Regions from separate parts of the Homo sapiens genome. Here regions 1, 2 and 4 are each linked to region 3. The links come from fine-mapping of genetic effects on gene expression. A gene starts in region 3. Each other region holds a variant in brackets. All regions are shown on one strand. Distances are between the middles of the regions. Region 1 overlaps SMARCA4 (SWI/SNF related BAF chromatin remodeling complex subunit ATPase 4). Region 2 has its middle 7.1 kb from the start of AP1M2. Region 3 holds the start of KRI1 (KRI1 homolog). Region 4 has its middle 5.5 kb from the start of ATG4D.

Evidence for each region.
Region 1: its variant is fine-mapped to the expression of KRI1 in whole blood (TOPMed, PIP above 0.99).
Region 2: its variant is fine-mapped to the expression of KRI1 in whole blood (TOPMed, PIP above 0.99).
Region 4: its variant is fine-mapped to the expression of KRI1 in transverse colon (GTEx, PIP 0.99).

Annotation. Positions count from the first base shown.
Region 1 is chr19:11,043,430-11,051,529 of GRCh38, forward strand. All of the region lies in intron 30 of SMARCA4 (SWI/SNF related BAF chromatin remodeling complex subunit ATPase 4), which reads left to right. Among named protein-coding and RNA genes, the nearest start is that of LDLR, 42 kb to the right of the region's middle. RefSeq lists enhancers at 2,921-2,970, 5,568-5,617, 5,708-5,997. The variant AT/A (reference allele first, on the strand shown) is at 4,154.
Region 2 is chr19:10,590,392-10,598,491 of GRCh38, forward strand. It overlaps the pseudogene LSM2P1. Among named protein-coding and RNA genes, the nearest start is that of AP1M2, 7.1 kb to the left of the region's middle. RefSeq lists a silencer at 589-789 and enhancers at 2,202-2,726, 3,253-3,777, 5,252-5,441. The variant A/G (reference allele first, on the strand shown) is at 3,684.
Region 3 is chr19:10,562,106-10,570,205 of GRCh38, forward strand. It overlaps KRI1 (KRI1 homolog), which reads right to left and starts at 3,905. Exons shown (of 19, transcript NM_023008.5): 1 at 3,801-3,905; 2 at 3,612-3,685; 3 at 2,824-2,929; 4 at 624-732. The coding sequence starts at 3,894. CDKN2D (cyclin dependent kinase inhibitor 2D) reads right to left here and starts at 6,874. Exons shown (of 2, transcript NM_001800.4): 1 at 6,408-6,874; 2 at 4,355-5,312. The coding sequence starts at 6,548. The coding sequence ends at 4,953. RefSeq lists enhancers at 3,010-3,577, 3,326-3,375, 3,578-4,145, 5,094-5,601, 6,041-6,210 and silencers at 3,646-4,175, 6,491-7,140.
Region 4 is chr19:10,534,397-10,542,496 of GRCh38, forward strand. No RefSeq gene overlaps it. Among named protein-coding and RNA genes, the nearest start is that of ATG4D, 5.5 kb to the right of the region's middle. RefSeq lists a silencer at 1,304-1,504. The variant C/A (reference allele first, on the strand shown) is at 4,877.

The sequences.
Region 1 (8,100 bases), 480 kb after region 3:
CACAAACCTAACTCCAAGGCTAAGTCCTCAAAGAGGAAAGCAAGTGGAGGACTTAAGTTACTTAAAGTGCGGGATACAGCTGCGGGCAGTAGCACATGCCTGGGGTCCCCACTACTTGGGAGGCTGAGGTGGGAGGATCACTTGAGCACAGCAGGTCCAGGCTACAGTGAGCCATGATCACACAGCTGCACTCCATCCTGGGTGATGGAATGAGACCCTGTATCTTAAAAAAATGAAATAAATACAGAATACTTATTTAAAACATGGGCCAGGTATAGTGGCTCGTGTAATCCCAGCACTTTGGGAGGCTGAGGTGGGCGGATCACTTGAAGTTAGGAGTTTGAGACCAGTCTGGCCAACATGGCAAAACCCCATCTCTACAAAAAATACAAAAATAGAAATTAAACTGGCATGGTGATGCGTGCTTGAGCTCCCAGCTCGGGAGGCTGGGCACGAGAATCGCTTGAACCCAGAAGGCAGAGGGTGCAGTGAGCCAAGATTGCACCACTGCACTCCAGCCTGGGTGACAGAGTGAGACAATACCTGAAAAACAAAAAACAAAAACAAAAAAAGGGAATTCGCAGAAATCTAATGACAATGACAGACCCTCCCCATGTTTTATTTCTAATGATAATCTTGTGAGGGAAACTTAACATTACCAACCTAAAGAAGACCCTTGAAGCGCAGTGGGGAAAGCACGGGTGTCTCCATCACACTGGTCTCCTGGGTATCCACGTAGAGAGGATGAGCCTCGACCACCCCCACACACGCACACACCATGCACTTGGATCCACGTGACATGGACTGTGGATGTAAGAACGTGAAAGGTAAAACAAAATTCTAGAAGAAAGCACGGGAGAAAATCTTCATGAGTAGGCATCGATTTCTTCCACGGGAGCCAAAAGCCACTAATCACAAACAATTGAGAAATTAGACCTCACTGAAATTAATAACATCTGTTTATTAATGGACACGCTGATGGAGACAGTGAAAACTCCTCATAGATGAGGAAAAGACAACACAATTTAAAGCTGGACAAGAGCCGGGAACAGACGCCTCCTTACACAGGACATCCCAGGACTAATCAATGTGGGGAAAGGTGCTCACGTCATTGCATTAGCATCACAACTTCAAGAAAATGCTCGTTAAAACCAGAGTGACTTGCACCAGCACCCGCCCCAGAACGGCCGAATGCCCATCAGTGCTGGCAAGTCTGAAGCAGTCTGGCCTCACACCCTGCGTGTAGGAGTATGCAGCTCTTTGGCAATCTCTTCTGTTTTGCTTTGTTTGTTTTTAACCATCGAACTGCAGAAGATAATATTTTCTGAGGCTCAGCCTGTACATACCCTCTGACCCAGCAGCCTGCAGCCCTCGTTCTACCCAGGAGAGCTGAGTGCATCTGTCCACACCGACAGACGTGTCCATAGCCACTTTGGTCATAATCTCCCAAAACAAGAATCAGCCCAGTGTCCATCTACAGGGGCATGGATCAGTGGAGGCCTAATCGTACAGGGCCCCAAACAGCTGTGAAAACAGACATAGTACTGCTACCTGGAAGAAGCTTACATTTTGTTGAGTGAAAGAAGCCAGACACTAAAAAGGGCATACTGGCCGGGCACGGTGGCTCACGCCTGTAATCCCAGCACTTTGGGAGGCCGAGGCGGGCGGATCACGAGGTCAGGAGATTGAGACCATCCTGGCTAACATGGTGAAACACCGTCTCTACTAAAAATACAAAAAATTAGCCGGGTGTGGTGGTGGGCGCCTGTAGTCCCAGCTACTCGGGAGGCTGAGGCGGGAGAATGGCATGAACCCAGGAGGCGGAGCTTGCAGTGAGCCGAGACCGCGCCACGGCACTCCAGCCTGGGCGACAGAGCGGGACTCCGTCTAAAAAAAAAAAGAGGGCCTACTGTGTGCCTCCAGTTCTGTGAGGGTCAGAAGCTGATCCACAGTAATGGCTGCCAAGCAGTGCTTACCTTGAGAGAGGGAATAGCAGGAAAGCCACACGACGAGCCTTCTAGGATACTGGGGATATTCTCTCTATAGATCTGGATGTGTATATGATGTGTACATTCACCAAGGTGTACACATGAGATATGTACACTTCTCTGTATTCCATTACACCTTGGTTTTTGAAAAGACAGAAACAGCATGCTCAGCTTATTAAGAACCTGAATATTTTCAGACAAAAAGTATGTCTAGTGTTAGTCCACTTTTTTTTTTTTTTAGTTTTAGACTCACAGAGCCCTCTTAGGGTCATATTTAGTTGTATATCATCTGACAAAAGAGGGAATGGCTCACCCAGCTGCTACAGTCAGTCTTGTAGCCTTTGTAAGATTTGATGATAAATCATACAATAAATTAAAACTTTCGGCTGGGCACAGTGGCTCACGCCCATAATCCCAGCACTTTGGGAGGCCGAGGCGGAGGATCACTTGAGCCCAGGAGTTCAGATGAGCCTGGCCAACATAGTGAGACTCTGTCTCTATTTAAAAAAAAGAAGAAAAAAAAAGTCTGGGTGTGGTGGCTCACGCCTGTAATCCCAGCACTTTGGGAGGCTGAGGCGAGCGGATCACAAGGCCAGGAGATCAAGACCATGCTGGCTAACACAGTGAAACCCCGTCTCTACTAAAAATACAAAAAATTAGCCAGGCGTGGTGGCGGGCGCCTGTAGTCCCAGATACTCGAGAGGCTGAGGCAGGAGAATGGCGTGAACCCGGGAGGCAGAGCTTGCAGTGAGCCGAGATTGTGCCACTGCACTCCAGCCTGGGCGACAGAGCGAGACTCCGTCTCAAAAAAAAAAAAAAAACCCCAAATCTTAACTCTTACTGCTAAGTGACTGCTTTATCGAAACTGTTCTGTTTCGGGACATTTGATTCTGGTAGAGATTTTGAGACCTGCTTTGAAGAGGACACCAACATTTCAGTCACACAGCAATGCTCCTGTCTTACCTGGGATCCATGTGGGAGGATGCCTCAGTGGGGGATTTGATCTGTGTTTTCAATTTAACCTCACATCTTACTGGAATGGATGGATTCACAGACCTGGGGGTCGCCCATTGGACTGGGAGTAACTACGTTGGAATTACAAGTAGGACAACAAAGATGACTATTAAAGAAAGCCTCCTGAGTGCTGGAAGCACAGCAGGCGTGGGTCTGTCCACTCACTGTAATGTGATTTGCACAGGAAAACATCACATAGGGCACATCAACTCAGGAAAGATAGTCGTTGAAAAGCTACCTCAGCTGGGCGTAGTGGTCACGCCTGTAATCCCAGAACTTTGTAAGGCTGTGAGGCTTGTGGATCCCTTGAGACCAAGAGTACGAGACCAACCTGAGCAAAACAGGGAGACCCCGCCTATGCAAAAAATACAAAAATTAGCCAGGCGTGGTGGTGCACTCCTGTTGACTCAGCTATTCAGGAAGCTGAGGCAGAAGGACCACAAGAAGTCAAGGCCGCAGTGGGGTATAATCACATCACTGCACTCCACCATGGGTGACAGAGGTGAGACCCTGTTGCAAAAAAAAAAAAAAAAAAAGCAAAAGAAAAGCTGCCTCCATTTAGCAATAATTTCAAACATGATGTTTGGGTACAAAATTGGTGTACTTAATGGATATTTCTGATATTCTTAACTAAATTTGAAGCTGTGAGGGAAGACAAACTCAGGGTCCACAGGGTGGGAAAAGTCCACAAGATCACCCTCAAGTGCCGTCATTCTCTAGGACCCCGAGAGCCCTAGCGGTTGTTACGCTTGCAGTTATGATTTATTACAGTGCAAGGCTACAGATTAAAATCAACCAAGGCAAGAGATGTATGGGGCCTCTTGGGGGCCAAGGTGGGCGGATCACTTGAGGTGATCTGGACGGTTCCAGACACAGGGCTTTCCTTTGTCTCCTCCCTGTGGAGTTGAAGACAGCGCTGATGTTCCCGGTGACGTTGACACAGAGCACTGCCAACCAGAGAAGCCTCCGTGTCCAGAGGTTTTTTTTTTTTTTTGGAGATGCAGTCTCACTCTGTCACTCAGGCTGGAGTGCAGTGGCACTATCTTGGCTCACTGTAACCTCTGCCTCCTGGGTTGAAGTGATTCTTCTGCCTCAGCCTCCTGAGCAACTGGGATTACAGGCTCGCGCCACCACGCCTGGCTAATTTTTGT[AT/A]TTTTTAGTAGAGATGGGGTTTCACCATGTTGGCCAGGCTGGTCTCGAACTCCCGACCTTAAGTGATCCGCCCGCCTCAGCCTCCCGAAGTGTTGGGATTACAGGCATGAGCCACCGTACCCACCCTGTGTCCAGCATTTTTACTGGGACTTGGTCACAAAGACACAGCTGGCTACCCACGTGGCTGACCTCCATCTCCAGCCCCTCTGCAGGTGAGCAGAAACTACATAGCCCAAAGCCCCAACCTAGGACTGGTCCCAGACCCCACGTAAACAAAGACAGCCATTAGGTGTGACATTCTAAGGACTCAGAGATCACCTCCCAGGAGCCCCAGGCAAAAGCCAGACCTCATTTGGGGCGAAGTTACATTCTTTTTTATTATTATTATTATTTGCCCATCATTGTCTAGAAGTTACATTCTGTATGACACATCTGTCAGATCCCTGGAAGCTTCCTCGCCACCGACTGCATGGCAGGTGGTGCTCATGTCACTCGGCCCTTCCTTGGCCCCACACAGCTGCACCAGGCTGAGAAGAGCTTGAATGGAATAAAGTCAGACACAGCTAACAGCTCACTTTTTTGTCTCCAACTTTGAATTGCTCCTTTCCAAGAAAAGAAAAAAAACTTCTTTTTGTTTAATTGGATTTTTTTTTTTATTTATTTTTTGAGGCAGAGTCTCACTCTGTCACCCAGGCTGGAGTGCCATGGCACAATCTCGGCTCCCTGCAACCTCCACCTTCCAGGTTGAAGTGATTCTCCTGCCTCAGCCTCCCAAGTAGCTGGGATTACAGGTGCACACCACCATCATGCCTGGCCGGAATTTTTGTTTTTTAGTTGGCTCTCCAGAACCCTCTAAGTAGTTCAGCTCTGCAATTGAGTTAAATGTGAAGCCTGAAAAGAGACTGGCATCTGTGTAGACCTGAGTTCTAACAATTCAAAGAGTGAACACGGGACGTTGTCCTCTGGATTCGGTGTCAGGAGCCTGCCTCGCCGAGCTGGAGAGTGTGCCCATGACTGCAGGTGGGAGCCACATGGTCCGTCTAGGTGGCGACACCTGAGGACAGAAGTGGTTTAGCTGGGCACCCGCTGCTGTGTTGGGGCCAGACCCTTTTGGAGAGGCAGGGACGCCCTTCCTGTCAGGTGGAATCTTTTCAAATATTGCTTTTGATCGTTGGAGATACTTGCAGCCCCCTAGTTCGTGTTTTATTCTGGCAGAATTGTGTTTGACGTGACCTCTGTGTTGACCTCATCATACGTGTACAGTTGTCTTGCCTGGGAATCTTATACTCTGTTCTTCTGCACTCAGATTCACAGCCATGAGGCCGCTCCTCCCAAGGCCCTGGAGTGTGGCACTGCCAGCTGTCACAGCCACGGTCCTTTACATTGTATACACAGAGTGCAGTGACATGCCCCTCCTGCTCAGGGGCCACAGTAGGAACAGGCTGGAGTGTTCTGTGGTACCATGCCGGCAGTGCTGGCTTCTGCTGTCCAGGGGCTTGTGGTGGCTCCAGTGGGAAGGGCCACGTAAGCAGAACAGGAAGTGTGAGCAGTGTCCACTGGGAGGAGAGGGACAAGTGTCCCAGGCAGAGAGGACACAGTGCATGCAGAGGCTGGAGGGAGGCTAGGGGCTTGAGTGGGGCTGCGCCAGCACCAGGGGCCTCACAGGGGCCCTGGGCCACACACCTGCCCTTAGCCAAGGGCGTTTCTCCTTGGTGGTTTGAAATCTCAAACCACATTGAGGAACCTGCCAGAAATCGAAACCAGAATTAAGAAATTAAGTTACATGTAGGAGATTTTACTTTAAAATCAGAACATGCAGAAACGTTCTCTGTGGCTTCGGGTCAGGTTCGGGCTTGTGGGGCTGTACACTGCCAGTTGATACCTTCTTCCCTGGGTTCTGTGTTTTTTTTTTTTTTTTTGAGACAGAGTCTTGCTCTGTAGCCCAGGCTGGAGTGCAGTGGCACAGTCTTGGCTCACTGCAACCTCTGCCTCCCTCCCTGGGTTCTTTATAGCAGTCAGCAGCTGGTGGCTGAGGCATTTGGGGCACTGTGTCCAAGTGTCAAGGCCGCATGTGTGTCAGGGGGCACACCCTTGGTGTGCTTGGTAAGGGCTCAGAGAAGGGCATCTGCTGGTCCATGTGGGCTCAGCCAGCAGCCTGCTAAAGACCACCCCGCCAGCCACCAGCCTGCCTGCGACAGTGATAGGGCAGAGATGCTGCTACAATAAAGACCATGCGGGCCAGGCGCAGGCGCTCACATCTGTAATCCCAGCACTTTGGGAGGCCAAGCCGGGCTGATCACTTGAGCTCAGAAGTTTGAGAACAGCTTGGCCAACGTGGCAAAAACCCCGTCTCTATTAAAATACAAAAATTAGCCAGGCATGGTGGCACTCGCCTGTAATCCCAGCTACTTGGGAGGCTGAGGCAGGAGAATCGCTTGAACCCAGGAGGAGGTTTCGGTGAGCCAAGATTGCACCACTGCACTCCAGCCTGGGTGACAGTGAGACTACGTCTCAAAAAAAAAGACTGTGCTAGACGGTGGTGTTGAACTTGAACTTGATGCTTGTGCTGAGGTCAGGAGACACGTGCACAGCTTCAGGGCTAGAGGGGCACAATGGCTGCAGACTATGCTCGGGCAGCTCGGAAAGACGGTGACGGGTCCAGGCTGCCGCAGCTAAGCCTCACAAGAGCTCTGGCCCCACCAGGCGGGCCCTCTGGGTTCCATTCCCACTCCCCACTGCCTGGAGGCAGCAGCCCTGTGGTTACTGTAGGAGGGACCTGAATGCAGTGAAGATCTGCACTCCACACCTGTCTCTGTGCCTCAGTCTCCACGTCTGCAGCACAGGGGCCTGACTGAAATAACGTGGCCAGGCACACAGCCCAGACGCCAGCACTGTGTGCACTGTGGGAGGGGACGATGGTCCCTAGCCCAGGGCCTGAGCTGCTGCCTTGCCAATTCGTGGTGACAGCTTTGGCCTGGGTCTGGCAGGGGCTGGCTGCTACTGCTGAAGGCCTGTCTGCACTGTTTCCCTGCCTTTCCACAAGCACTGTCCCTCCTGGCTCTTCAGAGTTGAGTGGTTATACCTTGTGCAAGAAAAACAATGAAACAGATTGTCTGAATGTTTCAGACCTGCCTGAAACATTCTGCAGGAGAGGTCATCCCAAGGCTTGAAAGTGTTTGTCACACTCCTTCAAGCCCCCAGGGCAGGGCCCCTGAGGGAAGGGTGCAGGTGGAGGGTGGGCAGGAGTGGGAGCCATTCCTTGGGGACAGGGGGGCTCCTCAGGGCTGTCTGGCCCTTGGCCTGTGGTTCCAGGTCTATGGTCTGCTTGGCACATAGCCTGGACCCTGGTGCTGTGCAGGCACTGGCTGGATGAGGGCACCGAGCAGATGAGCCCCAGGCATGCCCACTTATGGGCATAGGCTGGGTGCAGGGCACTGGGTCCAACATAACCATGGCAGAGGGCTCAGGGGGCCTAAAAGTCATGGATGGAGTTGCCCACGCAGCCTGCGGTCAGGTTCCCTGTGGAGCCGTGCTGGGGTTCTGCGCCTGCCCCAGGATTTGCTGGAAGAAGCTCCCCCTCCTCTGTTTGTGAGTCGGGCCCTACCCCCAAGTCTCCCCCTCAGTGATAGAGACCTTTACATAACACAAATAAACAAGGCAACTGGTTTAGAAGAATGAGTCTGAAAACTAGAATGGCGTGTTTAAGGAAAGCTTAGGACAGGACAATTAGAGACAGAGGTGCAGGTGTGTGGAGTTGGCAGCAGGAGGCCTGGGGGAGCCGCTCGTGCCTTTCCCTCCTGCCCTGGCCTCCCTTGGAACTCGGAGCAGCCCCCTGCCTTGAGGAGGCCCTTCCTTTCAGTGAGCCTGTGCCGCAGTCGTCCGAGGGAACACAGTGGGGACATATTTCCTTTTTTTTTTTTTTTTTTGAGACAGAGTCTCACTCTGT
Region 2 (8,100 bases), 28 kb after region 3:
GATCTGGATGATGATGTAGCAGTTGAGAGCACAGATGCTGGGTTTGATTTTTGATACCACCACACACTGGCTATAAGGCATGGGCTGGTGAATGCACCTGCTGTGCCTCAGTCTCCTCTTATGTTAAATGGGTATAACAGCCATGGTGCCCTCTCCTGCAGTTGCATAGCCAAATACCTGGCATGGCCCCTGGCTCCATGCATGTTTCGTGCACACCAGCTGCTGCAGACCCAGATTCCACCCCTGGACTTTCCTTTTTTTTTTCTTTTGAAATGGAGTCTCAGTCTGTCGCCAGGCTGGAGTGCAGTGGTGCGATCTCAGCTCACTGCAACCTCTGTCTCCTGGGTTCAAGCGATTCTCCTGCCTCAGCCTCCCAAGTAGCTGGGACTACAGGTGCACTCCACCATGCCCAGCTAATTTTTGTATTTTTATTAGAGATGGGGTTTCACCATGTTGACCAGGATGCTGTCGAACTCTTGACCTCGTGATCCGCCCACCTCAGCCTCCCAAAGTGCGGTAGTTTTGAGGACAGGGCAGAAGGAAAGGGAAAGTAAACCTCAGCCTTGCTTAGAACCACCTTGCTTGGCTGAGGGAGGGAGATGTCCTGCAGGGCCTGCAGGGAACAAGACTCAGCCTACCCAGACCTCACTTGTCCTTTCCCCAAACCCTGCCCAGCCCTTTATCAGCCCCTGTAGGTGGGGACTTAGAGAACAGCAGCTATCAGGATCATCCACTTGCCTCTCCACCTGAAATTAACATCAACATTGACAGCAGCACTGCACTTTAATTAAAACATTATCATCTGGGCCAGGAGCAATGTTTCATGCCTGTATCCCAGCACTTTGGGAGGCCAAGGTGGACAGAGCACCTGAGGCCAGGAGTTTGAGACCAGCCTGGCCAACATGGCGAAACCCTGTCTCCACTAAAAATACAAAAATTAGCCGGGCGTGGTGACGCATGCCTGTAATTCCAGCTACTTGGGAGGCTGAGGCAGAAGAATCACTTGAACTGGGGAGGCGGAGGTTATAGTGAGCCGAGATGGCACCACTGCACTCCAGCCTGGGTGACAGAGTGAGACTCCGTCTCAAGAAAATAAATAAATAGAATGAAAAATAAAAAGTTATCATCTGGCACAAGTCTCCTTCGTGCCATCTTATAAAGGTAGAAGCAGGGACACAGAGAAGTGAAGGCACCTGCCCAAGCCCACGGCCCCAGAGCCAGGAGGCAGTTGACCCAGAATTCGAATCTGAGTCCCGGGATTTAAGAATCTGGTCCCAGCCTGCTTCCGCCTGCTTTGCTATATTGCTGGATGCAAATATTACTATTAGTAACACTAACTCTGGCTTAAATGGTGCTCACCATAAGTGAGGGTGGCCCTAAATGTCGCCCATGCAGGAATCCTCAAGACAGCCCCTTGAATTACAGAAGCCTATTTTTTTTTTTTATTTATTTGAGACAAGGACTTGCTTTGTCGCCCAGGCTGCGGTGCAGTGGTGCAAACACGGCTCACTGCAGCCTCAACCTTCTGAACTCAAGAGATCCTCTCACCTAGGCCTCTCCAGTAGCTGGGACTACAGGTGAGCAACACCACTCCCAGCTAATTTTTAAATTTTTTTTTTTTTTTTTTTTGAGACAGAGTCTTGCTCTGTCGCCCAGGCTGGAGTGCAGTGGCGCAATCTCGGCTCACTGCAACTTCCGCCTCACAGGTTCACACCCTTCTCCTGCCTCAGCCTCCGGAGTAGCTGGGACTACAGGCATCCGCCATCAAGCCCGGCTAATTTTTTTGTATTTTTAGTAGAGACGGGGTTTCACCGTGTTAGCCAAGATGGTCTCGATCTCCTGACCTCGTGATCCGCACACCTCAGCCTCTCAAAGTGCTGGGATTACAGGCGTGAGCCACCGTGCCTGCCCAATTTTTAAATTTTTTGTAGAGATGGGGTCTCGCTACGTTGCTCAAGCTGGTCTTGAGCTTCTGGCCTCAAGCTGTCCTCCCACCTCAGCCTTCCAAAACACTGAGATTACAGACACGAGTCACCTCCCCCAACTCTATTATCTTCATTTGACAGATAGGGAAACTGAGGCCTTGAGAGAGTAAGTGATTTGTACAATGTCATCCAGTCAGAAGAAGCAGAGCTGGGATTTGAGCTCTGGAAAGCACAAGGTTTTTTTGTTTTGTTTTGTTTTTTGTTTTGAGACAGAGTCTCGCTCTGTCGCCCAGGCTGGAGTGGAGTGGTGTGATCTTGACTCACTGCAACCTCCGCCTCACGGGTTCGAGTGATTCTTCTGTCTCAGCTTCCCAAGTAGCTGGGACCACAGGTTTGTGCCACTATGCCTGGCTAATTTTTGTATTTTTAGTAGAGATGGGGGTTCGCCATTTTGGCCAGGACGGTCTCAAACTCCTGACCTTGTGATCCGCCCGCATTGCACGTTGGCCTCCCAAAGTGCTGGGATTACAGGTTTGAGCCACTGCACCCGGACTTTTTTGTTTTTTGAGATGGAATTTCACTCTTGTTGCCCAGGCTGGAGGGCAATGGTGCAACCTTGGCTCACCATACCCTCCGCCTCCCAGGTTCAAGTGATTCTCCTGCCTCAGCCTCCCAAGTAGCTGGGATTACAGGCATGCACCACCATGCCTGGCTAATTTTGTATTTTTAGTACAGACAAGGTTTCTCCATGTTGGTCAGGCTGGTCTCAAACTCCCGACCTCAGGTGATCCACCCACCTCAGCCTCCCAAAGTGCTGGGATTACAGGGGTGAGCCATCGCACCTGGCCCTGATTATTATTATTATTATTATTATTATTTTTGAGGCAGGGTCTCTGTCACCCAGGCTGGAGTGCAGTGGTGTGATCTCAGCTCACTGCAACCTCCACCTCCCCAGGTTCAAGCAATCAAGCAATTCTCCCACCCCAGCCTCCTGCACAGCTGGGACCACAGGTGCGTGACCACCACATCCAGCTAATTTTTATACTTTTTGGTACAGACAGGTTTCACAATGTCGCCCAGGCTGGTCTCCAACTTGTGGACTTAAGTGGTCCACCCGCCTCGGCCTCCCACAGTGCTGGGATTATAGGCGTGAGCCATCTCGCCCAGCCTAAAGCCCAAGACTTTATGTTGCTTCTGCCCAAAGGAGGGGGGTGGTCCTTCATGCTCCCAGCAACTGCCTGCTGAGAAGGTCACCTAGGGGGATGCAGTCACTGCTAGGCCCTCACCCCAGCCTAGACATTGCTGAACCTCAAAATAACTCGTCTCCTGGCAGCCGGGCGTGGTGGCTCACGCCTGTAATCCTAGCACTTCGGGAGGCTGAGGTGGGTGGATCACCTGAGGTCAGGAGTTTGAGACCAGCCTGGCCAAAATGGTGAAACCCTGTCTGGACTAAAAATACAGAATTAGCCGGGGGTGGTAGCACATGCCTGTAATCCCACCTACTCAGGAGACTGAGGCAGGAGAATCACTTGAAACTGGGAGGCAGAGGTTGCAGTGAGCCAAGATTGCGCCATTGCACTCCAGCCTGGGGCAATAGAGTGAGACTCTGTCTCAAAAACAACAACAACAACAAAATGAAGAACTCATCTCCTGGGGCCCTGAGATGTTTTCAGGCAGTAAGCAGAACCCGAAAGCCTGGGCCCAGTGCCCTGGAATCTGAAACTCCAGGCTTGTTTGGCATGAAAAATTCATGAGCCC[A/G]AAAGCTTACTTGGGGTCAGAGAACAGAGCAGCTCTGTGTGCTGGCTCTGCCTGCCCCGCCTGCCCCACCTCAGTGGCGGCCTCCCCCATCCCCCTGAGGCTGTGGCCTTGTCCTAGTTCCTTCTGGATGCCTGGAGCCTCCTCCAGCCTCTCCCAGGGACCACGCCTCTAGGCCCTGTCCACAATCCCTTCTCCACACCACTAAAGAGATCTCTCTGAAACTCACAATTATTTTTTGACTCTCACTCTCACATCCTCTATGGCCCCCCATTGCCCTCCAACCACCCCCACCTGGCACAGTCAGACACCTGCTGACCTCTGCCACAGGACACCACCTGAACCTGCTGTCCCAGACACCCTAACTGCCCGAATTTCAGTTCCTCTCCTGCTGTCTCAAGCCATCCTCCCACCTCAGCCTCCCAAGTAGCTGAGACTATAGACACGTGCCACCACAGCTGGCCACCTTAGCCATTTTGAAGTGCACAGTTCGGTGGCATTAAGCACATTAATGGCCATGCAACCGTCACCACCATCCATCTCCAGAACTTTCTCATCTTCCCAAAGGAAAACTTCTCCCTATGAAACACTCCTTCTCCCTCTCCCAACCCCTGGCACCCACTCTTCTTCTTCTTCTTCTTCTCCTTTTCCTTCTCCTCCTCCTCCTTCTTCTTCTTCTTTTCTTTTTTTTATTTATTTTGAGATGGAGTCTCACCGTCACCGAGGCTTGAGTGCAGTGGCACAATCTCGGCTCACTGCAGCCTCCATCTCCTAGGTTCAAGCAGTTCTCCTGCCTCAGCCTCCTGAGTAGCTGGGATTACAGGCGCCCCCCACCACGCCCAGCTAATTTTATTTTTTTATATTTTATTTATTCATTTACTTTTATTATTTTATTATTATTTTTTTTTGAGACAGAGTCTCGCTCTGTTGCCCAGGCTGGAGTGCAGTGGCACGATCTCAGCTCCCTGCAAGCTCTGCCTCCCGGGTTCATGCCATTCTCCTGCCTCAGCCTCCCGAGTAGCTGGGACTACAGGTGCCTGCCACCACACCCGGCTAATTTTTGTATTTTTAGTAGAGGCAGGGTTTCGCCATATTGGCCAGGCTGGTCTCTTGGCCAAGCTGGTCTGGAACTCCTGACCTGGAGATGTGCCTGCCTCAGCCTCCCAAAGTGCTGGGATTATAGGCGTGAGCCGCCGCGCCCAGCTTTTTTTTCTTTTTTTTTTGAGACGGATTCTCACTTTGTCGCCCAGGGGCTGGAGTGCAGTGGCGCAATCTCAGCTAATTGCAACCTCCTCCTTCTCCTAGTTCAAGTGATTCTCCTGCCTCAGCCTCCCAAGTAGCTGGGATTACAGGCATCTGCCACCACGCTGGGCTAATTTTTGTATTTTTGGTAGAGACTGGGTTTCGCCATGTTGACTAGGCTGGTCTCAAACTCCTGACCTCAAGTGATCCACCCATCTCAGCCTCCCAATGTGCTGGGATTACAAGTGTAAGCCACCATGCCCAGCTACTCAGGAGTCTGAGGTGGGAGGATCACTGGAGCCCAGAAGATTGAGGCTGCAGTGAGCTATGGTTGCACCACTGCACTCCAGCCTCGGTGACAAAGCAAGAACCTATCTTAAGAAAATACTGTGCTGAGCCAGTTCCTGAGAAAACAAAATAGAAAACAAAACTAAAGAAAAGGCAAAAGTTCCTCCCAGCAGAGATGTGAGAGAAAAAGAAAAAAAAAGTCCCCTGTGACACCCCCATACCCCAATCTTCGTCCCTCTCATAACCACTGGCTGATTCAGATCTTTTTCAGCTGGGTTACATGCAGGGGGGTGTGTGTGTGTGTTTGTGTGTGTGTGTGTGTGTGTGTGTGTGTGTGCGCGTGTTGCCCTCTTTCTCTCTCTTTCTCCCATACCATATAAGACTATACAACTTGTGGATGGGCACAGTGGCTCTCACCTGTAATCCCAGAACTTTGGGAGGCAGAGGCGGGTGGGGCACTTGAGGCCAAGAGTTCAAGAGCAGCCTGGGCAACATGGCAAAAAATCTGTCTCTACTAAAAATATAAAAACTGGCCAGGTGTGGTGGCTCACGCCTGTAATCCCTGCACTTTGGAGGCTAAGGCAGGTGAATCACCTGAGGTCAGGAGTTTGAGACAAGCCTGGCCAACATGATAAAATCCTGTCTCTACTAAAAATACAAAAAATTAGCCAGGTATGCTGGCGGACACCTGTAATCCCAGCTACTCGGGAGGCTGAGGCAGGAGAATTGCTTGAACCCAGGAGGCAGAGGTTGCAGTGAGCCGAGATCATGCCACTGCACTCGAGCCTGGGTGACAGAACAAGAATCTGTCTCAAAAACAAAACAAAACAAAACAAACAAGCAACAACAACTATATATATATATATATATATGTATATAGACTAAGCTGGGCATGGTGGTGCGTACCTGAAATCCCAGCTACTCCAGAGGCTGAGGCACACAAATCACTTGAACCCAAGAGAAGGAGGTTTCAGTGAGCTGAGCTCGCACCACTGCACTCCAGCCTGGGCGACAGAGAGAGACTCTGTCTTAAATAAAAAAAAAAAAATACAACTTGCTATTATCACTCAACAATATGACCTGGACGCTACTCCGGAAAGCATGTGGTTGAAGGGGAAGGAAGTGTGTCTTGGGTGTAAAGTCGGACTCCCTGGGTTCAGATCCTTGCAGAGCCACGGGCTCATTATGTTACTGTGGGTAAATTACTTCACCTCTCTGGGTCACTTTCCCCAATTGGAAAATGATTATAATGATTTAATACAGAGTGCTTGGGCCAGACGCGGTGTCTCACGCCTGTAATCCCAGCACTTTGGGAGGCCGAGGCGGTGGATCATGAGGTCAGGAGATTGACACCATCATGGCTAAGACAGTGAAACCCGTTCTTCACTAAAAATACAAAAAACTAGCTGAGCGTGGTGGTGGGTGCTGTAATCCCAGCTACTCAGAAGGCTGAGGCAGGAGAATTGCTTGAACCCGGGAGGCAGATGGTGCAGTGAGCTGAGATCACGCCACTGCACTCCAGCTTGGCGACAGAGTGAGACTCCATCTCAAAAACTAAAACAAACAACAACAACTATATACACACACACACACACACATACACACACAGAGAGCACTTTACTGGGTGAGCCAAGATCGCGCCACTGCCCTCCAGCAGCCTTGGTTCAAAAAAAAAAGGTGCTTGGCCAGCATGGTGGCTCATGCTTGTAATCCCAGCACTTCAAGAGGCCAAGATGGGCAGATCGATTGAGGCTAATGAGACCTGGTCTCTATTTCAAAAAAAAGAAAAAGAGTTAAAAAAATATATAAAGCATTTAATACCTTGTCTGACACTGACTAAGCTTTCTATAAACATTCACTCTTTCTTTCCTTTTTTTTTTTTTTGAGACCGAGTCTCGTTCTGTCACCCAGGCTGGTGTGCAATGGTGCACTCTTGGATCACTGCAACCTCTGACTCCCAGGTTCAAGTGATTCTCCTGCTTCAGCCTCCCAAGTAGCTGGGATTACATGCATGTGCCACCACACTCGGCTAATTTTGTATTTTTAGTAAAGACGGGATTTCTCCATGTTGGTCGGGCTGGTCTCGAACTCCCGACCTCAGGTGATCCGCCCGCCTCGGCCTCCCAAAGTGCTGGGATTACAGGTGAGAGCCACTGCGTCTGGCCTTAGAGACAGATTTTCATCGTGTTGTCCAGGCTAATCTTGAACTCCTGTCCTCAAGTGACCCTCCTGCCTCCCAGAGTGCTGGGATCACAGATGTGAGCCACCACTCCTGGCTGTAAACAGTCACTCTTATTATAATCTGCAGGACCACCACCTTTTTTCTTAAACTATTTTAAAAATTCTCATTTTGAAATGTAACTTTTTTATTTATTATGTATACAAACACACATATATATTTGCATCATAAATGTTATTCCCAATATGGGACAGATTCCTTTCAACCCCCAGGTGAATCACATGGTACCCTGGAAAGACCTAGGAAGCCCTCCCTCCCACCATCTCCAGGGAGGTAGTGAGAACGGCAGGTGCTGGGGACTGGGAAGGCTTTGGAGTTTCCCAGCCTACCTCTTCTCCCTTTCTCAACAAAGGATACCTGTTCCCTATTATTCCCCTTATCCACTCTTCCCTTTTTTAAAAAAAACCCACAAAACCATCATTAGTAAAAAAACAAACAAAACCCCTTCAAGTATTGGGAGTTAGGGGTCCTGGGCTGGGACTTGGAGTTACAGGTCACCAAGGAAGAGGGAAGGGAAGAGAAGGAGGGGCTGTCACTTACTACTGCTGGCTTTCTTCCTTGCTGCATGCTATGGCAACTGTGTGTCGACCTCCTTTGCTGGCAACTGCACGTATGGGACCACTGAGCCCGGAATGAAACAGTCCTTTTTAA
Region 3 (8,100 bases):
TGGCATGATCTCGGAAAACTGCAACCTCCACCTCCCAGATTCAAGCGATTCTCCTGCCTCAGCCTCCCCACGTAGCTGGGACTACAGGCGCCCACCACCACATCTGGCTAATTTTTGTATTTTTAGTAGAGACGGGGTTTCACCATGTTGGCCAGGGTGGTCTCAAACTCTTGACCTCAGGTGATCTGCCCGCCTCAGCCTCCCAAGGTGCTGGTATTACAGGCATGAGCCACCATGCCCGGCCTTTTTTCTTTTTGAGACAGGGTCTTATTCTGTTGCCCAGGCTGGAGTGCAGTGGCCTGATCATAGCTCACTGCAGCCTCCATCTCCTGGCTCAATCCTCCTGCCTCAGCCTCCTGAGTAGCTGGGACTACAGGTACACATCATCATGCCCAGCTAATTTTTAATTTTTTTGTAGAGGCGGGGTATGTTGCCCAGCCTGGTCTCAAACTTCTGTCCTCAAGCGATCCTATTGCCTCAGCCTACCAAAGTGCTGGGATTATGGGCATGAGCCACCATGCCCGGCCCAGGCTGCCAGCTTTTTTCCCTCTCCTGCCCCTAAGACCCCCATAGACCTGACAGGGCTGGGAACCAGGGGGTGGGGATGTAGGCCTTCTCCATACCCTGCCTTCTCCAAGATAACCTTCCTCTCGTAGTCCTTCAGGTACATGGGCCGCACTTTCTTCTGCTTCTCCAAGGCTTCTGGGTCCTCCTCACTGTCTGATGACGATGCTGTTAACCCACCAAAGACACCTGCCATCACCCACAACCCCCTTCTTTGCCGTGGCAGAGAATCCCACAGGGCAGGGCCAGGGTTAGACAGAGGATTCAAATCCCAAATCCACCAATTCCCAGCTGTCCAAGAGTATTGTGCTTGTCACCATCTGGTGGGGTTGGGGTCATTCAGTCAGTAATTCCTGCTTTGATTATTATTATTGTTGTTATTATTTATTTACTTATTTTTTTTTGAGGTGGAGTCTCATTCTGTTGCCCAGGCTGGAGTGCAATGGCATGATCTCGGCTCACTGCAACCTCTGCCTCCCGGGTTCAAGCTGTTCTCATGTCTCAGCCTCCCAAGCAGCTGGGATTACAGGTGCCCACCACCGCGCCCGGCTAATTTTTATATTTTTAGTAGAGATGGGGTTTCTCCATGTTGGTCAGGTTGGTCTCGAACTCCTGACCTCAGGTGATTTGCCTGCATCGGCCTCCCAAAGTGCTGAGATTACAGGCGTGAGCCACCGCACCCGGCCATTATTATTATTTTTTTGAGACAGAGTCTCACTCCGTTGCCCAGTGCATGGCGTGACTTGGCTTACTGCAACCTCCGCCTCCCAGGTTCAAGCGATTCCCCTGCCTCAGCCTCCTGAGTAGCTGGGATTACGGGTGTGCACCACCACGCCCAGCTAATTTTTGTTATTTTTAGTAGAGATGGGGTTTCACCATGTTGGCCAGGCTGGTCTCGAACTCCTGACCTCAAGTGATCCTCCCGCCTCAACCTCCCAAAGTGCTAGGATTACAGGCATGAGCCACCATGCCCAGCCTGATTAATTATTATAATTAATTTTTTTGAGAGTTGGAGTCTTACTCTTGCTCAGGCTGGAGTGCAGTGTCAACATCCTAGCCCACAGCTCACTGCAGCCTTGAACTCATGGGCTTAAGCAATCCTCCCACTTCAGCCTCCCAAATACCTGGGACTATAAGCGCACACCAGCATGCTCAGCTGAGTTCTGAATCTTTTGTAGAGATGGGGTCTTGCCGCCAGGCACAGTGGCTCACGCCTGTAATCCTAGCACTTTGGGAGGCCAAGGCGGATGGATTACCTGAGGTCAGGAGTTCGAGACCAGCCTGGCTAACATGGTGAAACCCCATCTCTACTAAAAATAACAAAAAAATAGCTGGGCGTGGTGGCACGCACCTGTAATCCCAGCTACTCCGGAGGCTGAGGCAGGAGAATCGGTTGAACCGGGGAGGCGGAGGTTGCAGTGAGCCCAGATCATGCCATTGCACTCCAGCTTGGGCAACAAGAGCAAAACTCCGTCTCAAAAAAAAAAAAAGAAAAAAGAAAGAAAGGCTGGCTGGGCGCAGTGGCTCACGCCTGTAATCCCAGCACTTTGGGAGGCCAGGGTGGGCGGATCACCTGAAGTTGGGAGTTCGAGACCAGCCTGGCCAACATGGAGAAACCCTGTCTCTACTAAAAATCCCAAATTAGCTGGGCGTGGTGGCGCGTGCCTGTAATTCCAGCTACTCAGGAGGCTGAGGCAGGAGAATCGCTTGAACCTGGGAGACGGAGGTTGCAGTGAGCTGAGATCGTCCCATTGCAACCCAGCCTGGGCAACAAGAGTGAAACTCCATTTCAAAAAAAAAAAAAGAGAAATGGGGTCTTGCTATGTTGGCCAAACTGGTCTCAAACTCCTGGCCTCAATTGACCCTCCCACCTCAGCCTCCCAAAGTGCTGGGATTAGATGCTTGAACCACCTGCCCAGCCTGGTGGAGTTGGAATCATTCAGTCAGCAATTCCCACCTTGAATAGTGCCAAGGACACAGTCATTAACTCCACCACCAGGTAATAACCTAGGCTCTGCTAAGGACTTGTGACTTGTGAAGCAATTCATTCAATAGTCAAAACAGATGAACTGTGTAAACTGGGTAAATCCCAATCTATCCTTAAAACAGCCCTGAGGGGAGATGCTACCGTTAGATATACTTTACAGACAGGAAAAGAGGCTCAGAGAAGTCAAGTCACTTCTCTGAATCCACAGTCAGGAAAGGACCCCGGATTCTGCTCCAGAGGAAGGAGAGGTTTAGACAGGAGTGGCCCCGGACCTGTTCTGTTATAGAAGGTGGCATCTTTCTGATAAATGCGGGGGTCCTTCTTCTTCAACAAGGAGAGCGTTTTGTAAAAGTCCCGCTCCTGCTGGGGATCAAATTCCTAGGGCAGGAAAAGGGTTGGGGATAGATTTCAGAAGGGAGATAATAAGAGCCCTGGCGCCAGCAGGTGAGCTCAGCGTAGGGATTAGGATGGAGGGGGGTGGATCTGGCTGGGGAGGTCAAACAGGTGGTCAAACAGCAGGAGGGAGAGGGGCCCTCTTGGGGTGGGCAGGGGCAGGCCACAGGTAGGTACAGGATATGGGTAGAGGAAGGTGAGGGGCAAGGAGAAGGTAATTCCTGGGGAAGACAAAGACTTGACAAGGGGCAGGTGGGCTGAGGGCACAAGAGAGACAGCGGGGAGGGGCTGGGCCAGGCCGCACAGTGGGGCCAGGATCAGGGCTGATGTGAGAAGTTGGGCGCCCCACGTGGCGCAAGGAGTACACTAAAAAATGGCTAGACTCTTGAGGATGAAAGAGGAAAGGGGGGGTTCTTGGGGGACAGAGTCGCCCCACACATCAGAGTGGGCAGGTGGGGATCGTGGCAGGGGAGAGAAAATAACGGGGATTTGGCTCCCCTGGGGAGAGGGGGGGCACTGTCTGTCCCTCATGGGATGGGGAGCGGAGGATGGGACGCTCCCGCAGGGCGCTCTGGGGTTGGGGGTTCCCCCCCGTCTACATCGGGGTCGGGGTGCAGAGGGGGGCTTGGACGCCTCCGCACGTCCAGGACGGGGCGGGGACGCGCACCACGCGCTCGTCGCTTGAGTCCGACTCGGAGCTGGAGTCGCTGCTGCTGTCTCGGTCCCCGTAGCGATCCTTCACTGCGGGACACAGACGGGATGCCCCCCCCCAGGTCAGCCGGCGGGGCCACTCGACTCCCCACTTCCCAACCGGCCGGCGCGCGCAGGCTCCCGCGCGCATGCGCCCCGCACTCACGCCGCTGCAGTTCCTCGCGCTCCCGGTAGCGGTTGTACCGCGCGGCAAACGCCGCGTTCACCCGCAGCTGCGACGACCCGCGCGGTTCCGGCATGGCGGTTCTGTGGCCCATTGCGCACGCGCATTGAGGAAGCCCTGGACGGGGCGGGGCCGCCCTCAGTCCCGCCCGCATCCACTTGTAAACGAGGCGTACCGCTGCTAACCCCGCCCCTGGCTTTTCCGGGATCCCTTTCGCCTCATCACCGCAGTCACCGCCCACGGCTACGCCCCTGCGGGGAAGGCCGCGGCCACCGCCCACCCGCCCCACCCCCTGTGCTCCGGGCACCCAGCTGACATCTGGGGGCCCTTTCTCCACTCGCGGTTTCCTGCTTCCCTTCCGTTCCGACAGCGAAAACCGCTGCCCCACCCAGCTCACTCACCCTGGCGCCCTGGGAATTACTATTCTCTCCCCTCACCCACCACATCCACGATCCGCGACCCCCGTCCTCATCCCCATCAACATCCGGGATGTGTAACTCTCCATCCCAGACTCAAAAATCAGAAGCCACCCGTGCTGTGATCATGCACAAGTCTTAATTTAATGGGTAAAAACATTAAATTATTACAACATTTTTTCCAATAAAGCATAATAAATAGAATCCATTTCTTTTAAAACGCTGTACAAGAGACTGGAAAACAAGCTTCCAACAGAATATGAATAACTCATAACTCATTCTACCTTCTTATTGATTTGGGACGCTCCCCCCACCCCCCATGCCTGAAGCAACGTGCACACTTCAGGTCTCTGAGCACAGCCGGCCAAGGCCACCAGCTTCTAGGCTCCCTGGAGGTCATGACTTCACTCTTAAATGCTCTGCCCTTGGGTCTCGTCTGAGGCCCCAGCAGCCTGAGGCGCAGAAGAAACTGAACCGTTTAGGTGGCTGTGGCCTGCAGGAGCCCTTCTCTGTCCAACACACCAAAAGGAGTGAGAAAAACAAATGAGAAACGTCCCCCAAACACTCACACCCCCAAAACCAACACCTATAAGCCACAAACTGTGCTCCTCCCCTACTGCAGCAGTGGGCAGGAGAAACAAGAAGAGAAAGTGTTTCTTCCCCTCTCTTCTGATACATAACCCCACGGGGTTCTCTTGCTGGAGAGGGTGACCCCAGATCACAGCGGGGCCACCATGTGGCCCTGCAGGATGTCCACGAGGTCCTGAGCCCCTCTCTGCAGTGCCAGCTCCAAGGGTGTGAGACCCCTGGCGTCCCTGCGATGGAGATCAGATTCAGCTGCCAGAAAGCTGACCACAGCAGTGTGACCCTCTTGAACTGCCAGATGGATTGGAAGTGCCCCGGTGCCATCAGGCACGTTGACATCAGCCCCGTGCTCCACTAGGACCTTCAGGGTGTCCAGGAATCCAGTGCGGGCTGCGTCATGGACTGGACTGGTACCGGAGGTGTCCTGGACATTGGGGCTGGCACCTTGCTTCAGCAGCTCCAGGGCGATGGCGGTGCTGCCAAACATCATGACCTGTGTGAGGGACAGAGGATCAGGAGGTCCTCAAGGGAGGAGGTTCCACAAAAGGGGTCACTGGAAAGAGAAGGGTCATCCAGAAAGAGGCATCTCCCAGAAACAGGAAATGCTAGAGGAGGGGTCCTCTAGTGAACGGAGAAGCTGCATAAGCCCCCAGGAAAGTTCTTCTGGGAATAGGGACCCCCCCCAAAAGCTGGTCACTCCCTTAAGAATGAGACCCCCCAACCCAGAGAACAGCCCCCCATGGAAACTTTCAAGGAACCTAAGACTCTCCCCCAAGGGACCAAAGACGCCCCCAGATATGGGCAATCACCAGGAAACAGAAAATCCCCTCCAGGAAATGGGCCCCCAGAGATGGAGAACTACCCCCAAAGAATTGATAGTCCTCATAAGGGAAAAAAGATGTCAAAGGAAAGCGAACCCCTTCTCCAGGAAATAGCCTCCTCCTACATAATGGTGATGTCACCTCAGAGTACCTGAGAGCTCCTTTCAAGAAGCGGGATTCCAAAAGTAATAATAAAAGAGAAACGAGACTTCCCTGTAAAATGTCTCCCAGGGAATATAGGGATGTCTTGCAATCTGACATTGTTCCTCCATTGGGGCCCCCATACTATATCAAGGATCCGCATAACCTTTAGGAATGAAGACCCCACCCCCAAGTAACCAGATTTGTCTCAGAGAGCCCCCTACAAAATGAGGAACCCCTAGAGACAGGACCTCTCCTTCCAGAGATCGGATCTCCCCATAGAAGCCCCAAGAAACGTGAGCCGTCCCCATGGAAACGGCATCCAAAGGAGCTGAACCCGCACCCACGGAATAAGAACCTCCCCAGGGAAAGTGAATCCCCGGCACTCAGAGAACCAGGAATCCTCCCAGAGAAGATGCTAAAAAGCTCTCCCCTCCCCCCACAACCTAGCCTCACCCACCACCCACCTTCGAAGGGGGACTGTGGGGGAACAATGAAAGCCTAGAGAAGAAGGACCGGTTCCCAGTGGGTCACCACCAGGGCCAGGAGACCAGAGAGGAGCTCTGGGGTCTCGATCCTCATCCCGCTTAGCCGCCCCGCCCCAACCTGGACCGGCCCGGCCTCACCTGCAGCGCCGTCTTGCCGAAGCGGTTGAGGGCGTCGGGATGCACCAGCTCCCGGTGCAGAAGGCGGCGCACCTCCTGCACGTCGCCCCGGGCCGCCGCCCCACTCAGCCGGTCGCCGGCGCGAACCTCCTCCAGCAGCATGTCGACACTGGCGGCCTGCAAAGCCCCCCGCCCCGCCCCAGCCCGGCGCTGTCAGCGCGGAGCAGCCGGCGGGCGCTGGCCCGAACAGCCCTCCCGGGGCGCGGCCGCGGTGCACCCGGCTGCGCTGCTCTCCCGTCCCGGCTCCCCAGCCCGAGACCCCGGCCCTCCCGGCGGGCTCCTCCCCCTGTCAGCCGGAGGACGGCGAGGGGCTGGGAGCCGGGCCCAACCCTCGGCCGCCCGCGGGGCCCTGCCCGGCGCCCGCCCCTTGGGGGCCGGGTCTCCCCCTAACTCACCCTCCCTCCTCCTCGCCGGGCGGGGTCTGCTCTGAGCCTGCGCCGCCGCCGCCGCTGAGGCAGCCGCCAGGGGGCGGAGCCAACGTGCTCCCGGCCACGCCCCGAACGCAACTGATTTGTTTTCTTACAAACTCGCTACTGTGTAGCGGCACCGCGTTGCCCGGCGCGCGACCTTACGGCGTTCCGCCCACAGGGCCTGCATAACCAGTGGCTGCGCGTCGCCGGGGAAACTTCGGGCTCGGCGTGAAACGCGTCGCTCCTGATTGGTCAGAGTGTGGCAACCGGTGGACCGCCGGCAATGGCGGGGTTTTCGGTTTTCAAATGAACCCGGCAGGCGGGAAAGAAGGCTGGTTTAACTGACCCAGGGAGAAAGGTCAGGGGCAGGGTCGCGCGGGCTGCTCTGGGACCTCGGCGCCTCCTGAGGGAAGGGAGGCAGGGCTGGAGCCACCCAATCCGAGGTTCCACTACTAATAGACATTCATTGGCCCTTACTACGAGCTGGGCGCTTTATTTCATTCATTTATTCATTCACTGTGTGCAGGGAGCGTCCTGGGAGCTGGACGCGCACATTCAAACAACCAAATAATATTAGATAGTGTCAAGCACCGTGAAGAAAGGGAAACGGAGAGACGGAGTGGATGAGGAAGGGATCACCCTGCCGGGCTCAGACTGAGCCAGCAGGAAAGGAGCCTGCAGCTGCCACGTGGGAAGGCCTGAGAGGACATAGTCGCAGCCAGACAGGGACTCAGAGGTCTTCGTTCAAATATTTACTTAGCACCTCCTAGAGGGGCCCGAGTGGAGAGCACGCCAGTCGGCCCCTGCTGCAGGGACACCTATGGTCTGGGGCCAGAGACAATAGTTAATTTTTATTTATATATGTATTTATTTTTGAGTCAGGGTCTCACTCCTGTCACCCGGGCCGGCGTGCAGTGGCGCGATCACAGCTCACTGCAGCCTCGACTTCCCGGGCTCAAGTGATCCTCCTGCCTCAGCCTCCCGAGTAGCTGGGACTACAGGGCGCACCACCACGCCCGGCTAATTTGTGTTTTTAGTAGATATGAGGTTTCACTATGTTGCCCAGGCTGGTGTTTTTTGTTTGTTATTTGTGTTTGGCTTTTAAATACAGATTTTTTTTTTTATGTTGGGGTTCTTGCTTTGTTGCCCAGGCTGGTCCCGAATTCCTGGGCTCAACGGATCCTTCTGCCTTGGCCTCCAAAAGTGCTGGGATTACAGGCGTGAGCTCCTGCTCTCCGCCAATA
Region 4 (8,100 bases), 28 kb before region 3:
TGAAACCCCATCTCTACTAAAAATACAAAAAATTAGCCAGGCGTGGCAGTGTGCACCTGTAGTCCCAGCTACTTGGGAGGCTGAGGCAAGAGAATTACTTGAACCCAGGAGGCAGAGGTTGCAGTGAGCGGAGAACACACCACTGCACTCCAGCCTGGACAACAGAGTGAGATTCCGTCTCAAAAAATAAAAATAAAAAATAAAATAAATTAGCTGGGTGTGGTGGCGCATGACTATAATCCCAGCTACTGGGGGAGGCTGAGGCAGGAGAATCGGGAGAATCGCTTGAACCGGGAGGCGGAGATTGCAGTGAGCCGAGATCGCAGCACTGCACTCCAGCCTGGGTGGCAGAGCAAGTCTCCGCCTCAAAATAAATGAATAAAATAAAATAGTCTAGTTCCTGTACATCTTCTCCAACACTCATTAAGGTCAGTGTTTCTCATTTTAGAGGTTCTAGAGGATTTTGGGGGGTATCTGATTTCTATGTTATTTTGAATTTTCCCGATGGCTAATGATGTTCAGATTCTTTTTTTTTTTTTCCCACAGAACCATTCAAGTGTAACTTTTTTTTTCTTTTTATAGAGACGGAGTTTCACTATGTTGCGCAGGCTGGTCTTCAACTCCTGGCCTCAAGCAATCCTCCCACCTCAGCCTCCCAAAGTGCTGGGATTACATGTGTGAGCTACCATGCCAGTCTTTTTTTTTTTCTTTATAGAGACCAGTTCTCACTCTGTCACCCAGGCTGGAGTTAGTGGCACGATCTCAGCTCGTCACAACCTCCGGCTCCTGGGCTGAAGCTATCTTCCCACCTCAGCCTCACAAGTAGCTAAGACCAGAGACATGTGCCATCAAGCCTGCCTATTTTTTTTTTTTTTTTTTGTAGAGACAGGGTCTCCCCATGTTGCCCAGGTTGGTCTCAAACTTGAACTCCTGGGCTCAAGCAATCCTCCTGCCTCAGCATCGCAAGTGCTGGGATTACAGTCATGAGCCACCGTGCCTGGCCATAATGGATATTCTTTTTTTTGAGACAGGGTCTGTCTCTCTCTGGTAACCAGGCTGGAGTGGAGTGCAGTGGCGCACTCACAGCTCACTGCAGCCTCCACCTCCTGGGCTCAATGCTCCCACCTCAGCCTCTGAAGTAGCTGGGACTACAGATGAGTGCTACCCTGCCCAGCTTTTTTTTTTTTTTTTTTTTTTTTTTTTTTGTAGAGACCATGGTCTCACTATGTTGCCCAGGCTGGTCTCAATCTCCTTGGCTCAAGTGATCCTCCTGCCCTGGCCTTCCAAAGTCCTGGGATTACAAGTGTGAGACACTGCACTCGGCTGAGAGTTTTGTTCTTACAGCCGACTTACAGATTCACAAGCAATGACACAGCTGATTAGGAATGATGGCAAGTGTGATCAGGTGGACCTGAGAACACACACAGGGCGACTTGCCCAAGCTGGAGGTCAGGACAGGCCTCTGAGCTGTGGGTGGGCAAGCTGAGGCCTGCTGGAGAAGAGGGAGAAACCGACTCCATTCATTTCCAGGCTTGCAGTAATTAATTCGCACAAACTAGGTGGTTTAAAACAGACGTGTATTCTCTCACAGCTCTGGAAGCTAGAAGTCCAAAGTCAAGGTTGGTGGTAGAGCTATGCCCTGTCTGAAGGCTCTAGAGGGGAATTCATAGCTGGGTCCTTCCTAGCTTCCCATGGTCTTTTTGTTTGTTTGTTTGTTTGTTTGTTTTTGAGATGGAGTTTCGCTCTTGTTGCCCATGCTGGAGTGCGGTGGCACAATCTTGGCTCACTGCAACCTCCACCTCCCAGGTTCAAGCGATTCTCCTGCCTCAGCCTCCTTAGTGCAGGTGCCTGCCACCACGCTCAGCTAATTTTTGTATTTTTAGTGGAGACAGGGTTTTGCCGTGTTGGCCAGGCTGGTCTCGAACTCCTGGCCTCAAGTGATCCGCCCACCTCAGCCTGCCAAAGTACTGGGATTACAGGCGTGAGCCACTGTGCCCCACCCATTTGACAAAAATTTTTTAAAATTAGCCAGGCGTGGTGGTGTGCTCCTGTAGTCCCAGCTACTCGGGAGGCTGAGGCAGGAGGACAGCTTGATTCTTGTAGTTGGAGGCTACAGTGAGCTATGATTACACCACTGCACTCCTGGGCCATAGAGCAAGATCGAGTCTCTAAAAATTAATCAATCAATCTGCAAAGACTCTATTTCCAAATAAAGGCACATTCACAGATACCCAGGGTTAAGACTTCCACATGAATATTTGGAGGACAGAGAATTCAACCCACAATCCAGGCTGACCTGTGACAGTGACAGTTATTTGGCATCCAAAGTGTGGCTACGAGTTCAATCTTGGAAAGCCTGGGACAGCCCAGCCAGGGGGTTCCTGAGGTGTAGGTGCGTGGTGACTGGCTTTTTTAAGGGCACGAATCTTTTGGGAGCAGAAGGAGGAAGACAGGAGGAAGGGAAGAAATTGTTGAGAGACCTGGGTCAGTCTCACCAGACTGAGTGCAGAAGCCGAAGACCCCTGGCCTCTACACTGGGCTCAAAGTGGTCAACTCCACGGCCAGGGGCAATGGCTCACACCTGTAATCCTAGCACTTTGGGAGGCTGAGGCAGGTGGATCACATGAGGTTAGGAGTTTGAGACCAGCCTGGCCAACGTGGTGAAACACTGTCTCTACTAAAAATACAAAAATTAGCCGGGCATGGTGGCACGCGCCTGTAATCCCAGCTACTAGGGAGGCTGAGGCAGGAGAATCGCTTGAACCCAGGAGGCGGAGGTTGCAATGAGCCGAGATTATGCCACTGCAATCCAGCCTGGGCAACAAGACGGAAACTCCAACTCAAAAAAAAAAAAAAGGTGGTCAACTCCAACAGAATGTAGTGGTGTGTGCCCATGGTCCCCCCTACTCGGGAGGTTGAGGCAGGATCGTTTGAACCCAGGAGGTCAAGGCTGCAGTGAGTACTGATTGCACTACTGCACTCCAGCCTGGGTGACAGAGACCTTGTCTCTATTTCATTACATGTTGAGATGATAACATTTTGGATGCGTTGGGATAAATAAAAAGAATTATTAAAATTGATATCACCTGTTTCTTTTTACTTTTAAAAAATGTGGCTAATAGAATATTGAAAATTATATTTCATGTTATTTTTCTACTGGATTGTACTTCTCCAATTTTGGGTTGGTTTTTTTTTTTTGGTTTGTTTGTTTTTGTTTTGTTTTGTTTTTTTAAACGGAGTCTCAATCCCGTCGCCCAGGCTGGACTGCAGTGGAGCAATCTCAGCTCATTGCAACCTCCACCTCCCGGGCTCAAGCGATTCTACTGCCTTAGCCCCCCGAATAGCTGGAACTACAGGTGCCTGCCACTATACCCAGCTAATTTATGTATTTTTAATAGAGACAGGGTTTCATCACACTGTCTAGGCTGGTCTCGAATTCCTGACCTCAAGTGATCTGCCCGCCTCGGCCTCCCAAAGTGCTAGGATTACAGGTGTGAGCCACAGCCGCCGGATTCTTTTCCAGATTTTTTTGGCATGATGGAATTTGTTTATAAAAATACCGTTCTAAGCTGAGTGGGGTGGTGTGTACCTGTATTCCCAGCTACTCGGGAAGCTGAAGTCGGAGGATTCTTTGAGCTCAGGAGTTGGAGACCAGCTAGCTAGGGCAACACAGCAAGACCCTGTCTCAAAAAAAAAAAAAAAACATTAAAATTAAAAAACAGCTAGGTCCTTCTAGCTGTTTGTGGATTTGAGGGGTCAGACATAGCAGCTAAGAGACCAGGGACTAGGATGATGGATGCTGGACCCAGGAGGGCAGTGGTGGGAATAAGAATAACAAGAACAGTCATAATTCACACTGACGTGGTGGAGACCATGTGCCTGGCACTGTTCAAAGCATTGTGCATATTCACTTCATCCTTCTCCCAAACACTAGAAGGGAGGCAGTATCACTACCCCATTTGGCAGATAAAGAAACTAAGACAGTGGCCGGGCACCGTGACTCACCCCTGTAATCCTAACACTTTGAGAGGCTGAGGCAGGAGGATCACTTGTGCCCAGGGATTCAAGGCTGCAGGAAGCAATGATTGCACCATCACACTTCAGCCTGGGCAACAGAGTGAGACCCCGTCTCTCTCTCTTTTTTTTTTTTTCCAATGAATCAATTTTATTTTCAGACTTTCATAGTTAGTCTAATTAAATCAATTTAAAGTTCTCACTTTCTTGACATGCTTAAGAAGTATAGTGTAGTGGGTGAAATCATAGACGCCGGAGACAGGACTTCCTGGGTTAGAATTCCAGATCAGCAACTTACTAGAATGAAACCTTGGCCACATTATGTCATCTCTTTGTGTCTCCATTTGCTCATTGCTTGGCGATAGGTGATTGTCTCACCGCTCAGCGATAGGCGATGGTCTCACCGCTCGGCAATTGGCGAAGGTCCCATCTGGGTCGCCAAAATGTGTCCGGAATTGGTGGGTTCTTGGTCTCACTGACTTCAAGAATGAAGCCGCGGACCCTCGCGGTGAGTGTTACAGTTCTTAAAGGTGGCGTGTCCAGAGTTTGTTCCTTCTGGTGTTCAGATGTGTTCGGAGTTTCTTCCTTCTGGTGGGTTCGTGGTCTCGCTGGCTCGGGAGTGAAGCTACAGACCTTTGCGGTGAGTGTTACAGCTCTTAAAGGCAGTGTGGACCCAAAGAGTGAGCAGTAGCAAGATTTATTGCAAAGAGCGAAAGAACAAAGCTTCCACAGTGTGGAAGGGGACCCGAGCGAGTTGCCCAACCCCATCTCTCAAAGAAAAAGGAACTGAGGCAGAGAGTGGCGAGGTCCCTTATCTGAGCCATCTGGCTGCACAGTCTGTACTGAGTGCAGAATCCAAAGA[C/A]CCCTGGGCCTACACTGGGCTCAAAGTGGTCAACTCCAATGGAATGCGGTTGTGTGTGCCCACGGTGCCAGCTACTCAGGAGGCTCAGGCAGGATCACTTGAGCCCAGGAGGTCAAGGCTGCCATGAGTCCTGATTGAACCACTGAACTCCAGCCTGGGTGACAGAGTGAGACTCTGTCTCGAAAATAATACACTTGGGCACAGTGGTTCATGCCTGTAATCCCAGCACTTTGAGAGGCTGAGGAGGGCAGATACCCTGAGGTCAGGCGTTCAAGACTAGCCTGGCCGACGTGGCGAAACCTGTCTCTACTAAAAATACAAAAAATTAGCTGGGTGTGGTGGCGCGTGCCTGTAATCCCAGCTACTCGGGAGGCTGAGGCAGGAGAATCACTTGAATCCATGAGGTCGAGGTTGCAGTGGGCCAAGATCGCGCCACTGTACTCCAGCCTGGGCAACAGAGTGAGACTCTGTCTCAAAAAAAAAAAAAAAGGGAATTGGGGTTGGACGCAATCTTGAGGGTGGGGCCCTCACACCATTCTCCTGCCTCAGTCTCCTGAGTAGCTGGGACTACAGGCGCCCGCCACCATACCTGGCTAATTTTTTGTGTTTCACTGTGTTAGCCAGGATGGTCTTTATCTCCTGACCTCGTGATCTGCCTGCCTCGGCCTCCCAAAGTGCTGGGATTACAGGCATGAGCCACCGAGCCCGGCTGAGACCAGGATGTCAAGGCTTCAGTGAGCCAAGATCATGATGCCACTGCACTCCAGTACTGGCAACAGAGTGAGACTGTGAGAAAAAAAAAAAAAAAAGAAAGGAAGGCAGGTGAGAGGATATAAGATAAGAAGAGAATCTCAGCTGGGCGCGGTGGCTCACGCCTGTAATCCCAGCACTTTGGGAGGCCAAGGCAGGCAGATCACCTGAGGTCGGGAGTTCGAGACCAGCCTGAGCAACATGGAGAAACCCTGTCTCTACCAAAAATACAAAAAATTAGCCAGGTGTGGTGGTGGGCGCCTGTAATCCCAGTTACTCGGGAGGCTGAGGCAGGAGAATCGCTTGAACCCGGGAGGCAGAGGTTGTGGTGAGCCGAGATTGCCATTGCACTCCAGCCTGGGCAAAAACTCCATCTAAAACAAAAAAACAAAACAAAACAAAAAATAGAAGAGAATCCCACCAAGAACCATGCTGGCACCCTGATCTGGGACTTTCTAGCCTCTAGAACTGTGAGAAGCAAAGGTGTGTTGTTTTAGCCCCCAAGGCTATGGTATTTGTCACAGCAGCCCAAGGGGATAAAGACAGTAAGGTTGTGATAACTACTCCCATGCGGCGGGGAGGGGGAAAAAGGCAGGGAAGAGAAGGAGACCAAGGATGGAGATGGGGGAGAATTTTGAGAGTGGTAATCTTCGTGTAGGGGTGATATTTGAATAAAGACTTGCGGCCGGGCACAGTGTCTCACGTCTGTAATCCCAGTACTTTGGGAGGCTGAGGTGGGTGGATTACTTGAGGTCAGGAGTTCGAGACCAGCCTGGCCAACATGGTGAAACCCCATTTCTACTAAAAATATAAAAATTAGCTGGGTGTGGTGGCACATGCCTGTAATCCCAGCTACTCAGGAGGCAGGAGGATCACTGGTGCCCAGAAGGTCGTGGTTGCAGTGAGTTATGATCGTGCCACTGCACTCCAGCCTGGGCAACAAAGTGAGACCCTGCCAAAAAAAAAAAAAAAGACCTGAAGGAGGTGACGGAGAGCCATGGTAAGAAACGTGGTCTGGGCAGAGGGAACAGCAAGTGCAAAGACTCTGAGGTGGCATTGGCTCTGTTGAGTTTGAGAAAGGGTGCACTTGGCTGGTTGCAGTGGCTCAAGCCTGTAATCCCAGCACTTTGGGAGGCCCAGGCGGGCAGATCACCTGAGGTCAGGAGTTCAAGACCAGCCTGGTCAACATGGTGAAACTCTGTCTCTACTAAAAATATAAAATTAGCCGGGTGTGGTGGCTCACACCTGTAATCCCAGCTACTCCAGAGGCTGAGGCAGGAGAATTGCTTGAACCTGGGAGGCGGAGGTTGCAGTGAGCTGAGATTGTGCCAGTGCACTCCAGCCTGGGCTACAGAGCAAGACTCTGTCTCAAAAAAATAAAATAAAATAAATCAATAAATTAATAAATTAATGAAAGAGAAAGGGGTCAATTGTGATTGAAGGCGACTGGGAGGAGAGGGGAAAAAAGGAAAGTCAGGGAGGTGACTGCCCCTTTTGTGCCTTCTCCTTCTTGGATCACACCCTCATTCAAATCTTTCTTACCTCCTTCAGAGAGCTGAGGACAGAGCCCCGGGGCTGGCCACTAGAGGCCACCCTCTCCATGGCTCACAGGGTCACTGCATTGTCATCATGCAGTTGGCTCTCACTGAGCCCCAACTGTTCCTCAAATACCACTCTAAGCACTTTACATTGGTAAGTTCAGCTCATTCCCATACATCTTTATGAGTTAGACACATTTAAAACTTTTTCCTGGCTGGGTGCAATCGCTCATGCCTGTAATCCCAGCACTTTGGGAGGCCGAGGCTGGCGGATCACCTCAGTCAGGAGTTCGAGACCAGCCTGGCCAACGTGGTGGAATCCTATCTCTACTAAAAATACAAAAATTAGCTGGGCGTGGTGGTGTGCGCCCGTAATCCCAGCTACTCAGGAGGCTGAGGCAGCAGAATTGCTTGAACCTGAGAGGTGGTGGTTGCAGTGAGCCAAGATCGCACTAGTGCACTCCAGCCTGGGCAACAAGAGCGAAACTCCATCTCAAAATAAATACATAAATAAATGAAAATAAAATAAAAAATAAAAATTGTCCCTGGCCAGGTGCAGTGGCTCATGTCTGTCATCCTAGAACTTTGGGAGGCTGAGGCTAATCGTTTCAGCCCAGGAGTTCAAGACTAGCCTGAGCAACACTGGGAGACTCTATCTCTACAGAAAAATTTTTAAAAATTAGCCAGGGGTGGCCAGGCACGGTGGCCCACGCCTGTAATCCCAGCACTTTGGGAGGCCGAGGTGGGCGGATCACGAGGTCAGGAGATCGAGACCATCCTGGCTAACACGATGAAACCTCGTCTCTACTAAAAATACAAAAAATCAGCCAGGCGTGGTGGCGGGCGCCTGTAGTCCCAGCTACTCGGGAGGCTGAGGCAAGAGAATGGTGTGAACCTGGGAGACAGAGCTTGCAGTGAGTCGAGATCGCGCCATTG